Regions from separate parts of the Homo sapiens genome. Here region 1 is linked to region 2. Evidence: fine-mapped expression QTL. A gene starts in region 2. The other region holds a variant in brackets. All regions are shown on one strand. Distances are from middle to middle.

What was found.
Region 1: its variant is fine-mapped to the expression of CX3CR1 in whole blood (TOPMed, PIP above 0.99).

What each region holds. Positions count from the first base shown.
Region 1 is chr3:39,254,339-39,257,255 of GRCh38, forward strand. All of the region lies in intron 2 of LOC102724104 (a long non-coding RNA gene), which reads left to right. Among named protein-coding and RNA genes, the nearest start is that of CX3CR1, 24 kb to the right of the region's middle. RefSeq lists an enhancer at 1,612-1,851 and a silencer at 2,633-2,682. The variant G/A (reference allele first, on the strand shown) is at 1,296.
Region 2 is chr3:39,278,741-39,281,657 of GRCh38, forward strand. It overlaps CX3CR1 (C-X3-C motif chemokine receptor 1), which reads right to left and starts at 1,296. Exons shown (of 2, transcript NM_001337.4): 1 at 1,214-1,296.

The sequences.
Region 1 (2,917 bases), 24 kb before region 2:
CTTGGTGGCTTGTCTTTCTGTCATCTGCCATGTGAGGACATGGTAAGAAGGCCCTCATCAGACCAAATGCTCATGCCTTGTCTTGGAATTCTCAGCCTCCAGAACTGTGAGAAATAAATTTTTGTTCTTTTTATTTATTTTTTTATTTTATTATTATTAGTATTATTATTATTTTGAGACAGAGTCTCGCTCTGTCGCCCAGGCTGGAGTGCAGTGGCACAATCTCGGCTCACTGCAAGCTTCGCCTCCCGGGTTCATGCCATTCTCCTGCCTCAACCTCCCAAGTAGCTGGGACTACAGGTGCCCACCACCACGCCCGGCTAATTTTTTGTATTTTTAGTAGAGACGGGGTTTCACTGTGTTAGCCAGGATGGTCTCGATCTCCTGACCTTGTGATCCGCCTGCCTCAGCCTCCCAAAGTGTTGGGATTATAGGCATGAGCCACAGCGCCCTGCCAAATTTTTGTTCTTTTTAAATATCCCACTCTATGGTATTCTGTTATAGCAGCACAAATGGTCTAAGAAACTATTCTTTTATTAGGAAAAAAATAGCAAATTGTGGTTTTAGATTTAAGAGATAAATTTAATTCATGCAAATGATTCATCCTATAAAGATGAGTCATAAATACCAAAGAAGTGCATCCTTTTTTAGACATGTTTAAATATAGTCCACAAATACCAGTGCACTGCTAACTATAGCTACTCCTACAACTTCAAGTTATCTCCTACTCAGCCAAATGTCAAAATTTTACCAGTGAAAACTTAATCACTATTTTTCTTGCTGCATTAATTTCACCCCAACAAGCCTTTAGTACTTTAGTAATATTTTGTGCCATCTGAATAGCAGCAGCTGAATTTACCCAGCACATGCCACTAAAGCCAGAAGCCATGTATTTTGAAGGGCCCACTCAGGTTCATCACAGAGCAGAATGACACCTCTTGCCTCCTCAACTCTGCATCCTTCATATTCTGCTTCTGTGCAAAACTGTGTTGACGAAAAAGTACATATAACTTTAGGTCCTGCTTCAGCCCCAAGATAGGTTTAAATCTGCGTATGCTGCTTAGGCATTCCTGGGGATACCTGTGTGCATGAGGCCTCAGGCTACAAATCTTCATCTCATTCTTCTCCTGAAGAGGGAAGAGAAGTGAGGAGTCCATGGGAAGGTTTCTAGACACTAGAGTTAAGGCCACCATGCTGTTTCATGCACAAAAGATGGGAGACAAAGGCTGGAGGAGCATGAGCTCACCTCAAGGTGAAAGACAGGCCAGGGACATTGGGTTGCAGGCTATAGAAGG[G/A]TTACACATGGGGCAAGGAAAGCTTCCTGTAAAATCACCAACAGCAAAGCTGACATTGTGGTGTATCAGGAAAGAATGCAAATGAGCTGGTCCACTCGACTGTGGTAGAGGGAGCAGTAGGGCCTCGGGGAGGGCCCCTTAACTTTGGGGAAGCTAGCTGTGTCCTTTGGGGCAACAAACAGAAGAAAAGGGAAGTGAGCCTATTCAAATCCTCTGCTGTGGGCAATACACTGTGCTAGATGCTTTCACTGCAATCTCTCATTTTCTCCTCAACCCTGAATATAGACATTGCCACCCCGTTTTTCTGAGTAATAAGGCCTGAGGCAGTTAAGTAATTTCCAAAGACCAACACTCTCAGAGCGTGGATGTCTAACCTTCAAGTTCAGGCTCATCAGCTTCAGAGACAGGGTCTGAGGAGGGGCCAGGACAGAACCTTGTAGGCAAGAACGTGGCAAAATGGCCTCAGGGCCCTGTTGGTCTCACTGAAGATGGTACAGTTGGGGAGTCTGGACTCCACAGATGGCACCTGTAATACTTGGAGGAAGAGAGTAGTCTGGGGCAGGTGTTCCCTCAGCCTGGGAGTGGCCAAAAGTGACCAGGCTAAAGGTTGATAACCTGGGCTCCTTACTTCTCTCAAGGTTGCTCTGACACTGTATTTAGGATTTACACATGGTTTTTTCAATTCTTTTTTGCCAGTAAATATACAGGAGATTTCAAAGATACTCTCAACTCTTAATTGCTGCAATTACACCATCCCTAGACTGAGCATTAAAAAAAAATGCTTCCTGGTATAAGGTTTTGGTACTGTCTTAGCAGTTCATGCCACCACAGGTAAAATACCTGGATGCCCTTACGAAGTAGCCAAATGGAGTGTGATCAGTACTCCAAGGAGTTGGCATGGGCATCAATTGCGTATTATTTTCTCCAGCCTATATCTATCTGCCTGTACTTGGAGTACTGATGAATTAATGCAGTGTTGGCTCTGCTGCCTCTGATCAGTTTACATTAACGACCATGATAAATATGTTGTAAATAAAAGTCATTTTCTTGACTTTCAGGTTTAAATGGCATCTGGCTAACAGCCCCTGGGCAGCCCTTTCCAATATTTTATTAAAATGCTAATTAATACATAGGAAAAGATGAAAATGCTCAATAATGCCGCAGACTAAGACTGAAACCACGTTGTGAGAATAGGGGAGGAAACTGCATTCTACAGGCTAGAGCTTTTTTTTTTTTTTGAGATGGAGTCTCGCTCTGTCACCCAGGTTGGAGTACAGTGGCGCAATCTTGGCTCTGCAACCTCCGCCTCCCGGGTTCACGCCATTCTGCTGCCTCAGCCTCCCGAGTAGCTGGGACTACAGGTGCCTGCCACCATGCCCGGCTGATTTTTTGTATTTTTAGTAGAGACAGGGTTTCACCGTGTTAGCCGGGATGGTCTCAATCTCCTGACCTCGTGATCCACCTGGCTCGGCCTCCCAAAGTGCTGAGATTACAGGCTTGAGCCACTGCGCCCGGCCTGTAGAGCTATTTTAAAAAAGAAACCACTGTAGGTTTTGCCCTACATGGAGTGCCAGGGAAAGTGGATCATCTAGGATGACTCCGAGGTTTTGACCAGAGCAACT
Region 2 (2,917 bases):
AAGCAAGGATTGCAGGCTCTGTGAGGCTGTGATTGCCAGAGGCAAGGCAAGAGAAATAACAAGCCGTGGTCAGTCCTCAGCTGGGGCCTCTGATGGATTTCCTCCTGTCTTGCACTCATAATTTCTTTCTGAAGACCATGTTTTCCACCCACACAAACCTGAGCCTGAGTATCCTCACAATGGTTATAACAACATATATCAAAATTGAACACTAAATTTGTGCCAGGAATTTATTAATGGAGAAACCCCGCCTCTACTAAAAATACAAAATTAGCCGGGCGGTGGTACATGCCTATAATCCCAGCTACTTGGGAGGCTGAGGCAGGAGAATCACTTGAACCCAGGAGGCAGAGGTTGCAGTGAGCCGAGACTGTGCCATTGCACTCCAGCTTAGGCAACAAGAGCAAAACTCCGTCTCAAAAAACAAAACACAAACAAGAAAGAAAACCCAAAAAACAAAAAACAAACAAAAACCCATAGATGGTACAAAAAGTGGAAGAAAAAGGAAAAAAAAACCCATGAAACTATCTGCAATGCAGTTTCCTAGAATCAACCACAGTAATCTTTTAGCTTTTCTCTATCTAAATGTTATACATATTTTATATTTATATTAAGTGCATTTATATTTATATTAAAATACAGATACAAATTTAAAAACTCTTTATTATTAAATTTTCAAATAAAAAGCAACTTTTCAAATAAAAGCAGCGAGAACCTCCTTATACCCAACACCTGGCTTCAACTATTAGCAACCCATGGTCAATATTTCCTCTATTTCCCACTTAATGTCTCTACTGAATTATTTAATTTCACCCATAAACACTTGTGTGCATCTCTAAAAGTTAAGGACTCTTTTTTGAAAAAGACTTTAATACAATTTCTCATCTCAAAAAATTAGCAATAATTCCTCAACAGCATCCAGATGCAATTTTTCATGCTTTTTTCAGTTAGTTTAAAATCATGAGCTTTTCTCCATGTCTCTAAAATGTAATTACTAATGCTTCTAATACTATTCCACCAGGTTGAGTGTATTATAAATGATCTGATCACCCCTTGCCTCCCACTCTTCCATCCCCTTGGACATATTTAGGCTACAACATCCCCAGGAAAATGGTTTCCATTGTCTGCACGTAAGCAAACAGGCATTATTAACCTATTAGCTGTCCACTGCTCCACCCCACCCACAGGTACCCAACTAGTCCTGTGCACCTACCTGGCGTGGACTGCCAAGGGAACCTCTGGATCTGCCAGTCAGCCACCCTGTCCTGCTCAGACTTTACCAGAGACGAGTATTTCCCTTTCCTTCCCTCTAAGAGCATTTTATTTGCAGAGTTAGCCAATAGTATCTTGTTTCCTGTAAGGGAGACTATCTTTAGATGCTGCCACAGGCAAGCTCAGATACTCCAGGGTGGAGGCCAGCTGCCAACAGGAGGGCCTGACTTTATAAACCTGGAAGATCTAAACCTCAGGGAAGACTGCGGAGCTGGAGGGAGAGAGGTGCCACTTACCCCAACCTGGAGGTGGGGGGCAGGGAGCAGGCCCTGCAGTCAGCAAAGCACAGCACAGTCAGCTCTCATTAATGGGGAGCCTTCAGGAAGCTGGGAGAGCTCATGGGGCCCTCAGCTTCCCTGCCCACGAGAGGGAGCCCAGAGTACTCACTGGACCACACTGGGGCACACACAGCTCTTCTCCTCAAAGTGCAGTCCCAGGCACTGGGAGCTTATTAAAGACAGCACCTCAAGCCCTGCCCTATATCTGCTGAATTAGAATCTGCATTTTAATGAAATTCTTAGAAGAGTGATATGCATACTAAGTTTGAGAAGCTTTGGTACTGAAGGCATCTAGTGAGTACCTTGCACCTTGTAGATGCTCGGTAAATATTTTTTTCCTCACCTCTCTGCCCCAAGGCATTTAGTGGCTCCCTATACCCATCAGTCAAGGCTGAGGACACAGCTTTCACCCAGGACCTGGCCTATGCTCCTTTCACAGTCTCTCCCCCTGCCACTCTTGCCCTGCAGTGGGGAGCCTGGTGGGCTCCGGCATCCAGCCATGCTTCTGCTCCCTGGCCTGGCCAGCTTGGGGCGACTGCAACGTGAATCTCAACTGCCACTGCCTCATCACCTTCCGATCACTTCATTACCTGCCTGACCCCTGGCATATGCTATATAATTCTGATCCATCCCTAACTAGGGCCTGGCCCATGGTGGCCTTCAATACACCTTCATTAAATGGTCTGTGACCCCTTCAAGGCCCCTCTGGCCCCTTGCTGCCCACATCCCAGCCACATCCGGTGCTCCCTTACCTCTAGTCGCTGTGGTGTTCCGAGGACAGCGGGTGCTCTGTGTGCTCCCCACCTTGCCCCTCCTCACCTCCCCCAACCCCAGGACAGAGCTGGGGGCTGCAGTGCAGTGCTGCGGGCTTGGTGGCCTGCTCATGGTGGAAGAAGTCCACCAGCAGTTTTCTTTCTTTGTTCTTGGTCTCAGTGTTTGGCCACCTTTCCCTGCCTTTGGCCAGAAGGCCACAGGACAAAAGCAGAGTCAGGCCGCTCCCCATCCACTTTCTGACACTGGCCCCTCCCCACCCCACACCACCCCTTGATACCTCTCCTGGGGTCCACTCAGCTGGGCTGGCTGCCTCAGCCCCTTCCTTGCCTCTGACTCCCCTCCTCTTCTGAGGGCTCCTTTCTTGGATCTGGCCAAGACTCTCCCTCTCTTCCTGTCCCACACTCTTGACGACAGTCTCATCCACCCCACATCAGTAATCCCCTCCGTGTTCATGAGCACACATCTCTACCTCCATCCAGGGCCTGGATAATTTCCCAAGCCCATCTAACCTTCTCCGTTCTCTGTCTTTCCTCTCACCACTTACCCCACTGGCCATTCTCCACCCAGAAGCCAGAGAGCTCTTCCTGAAATCC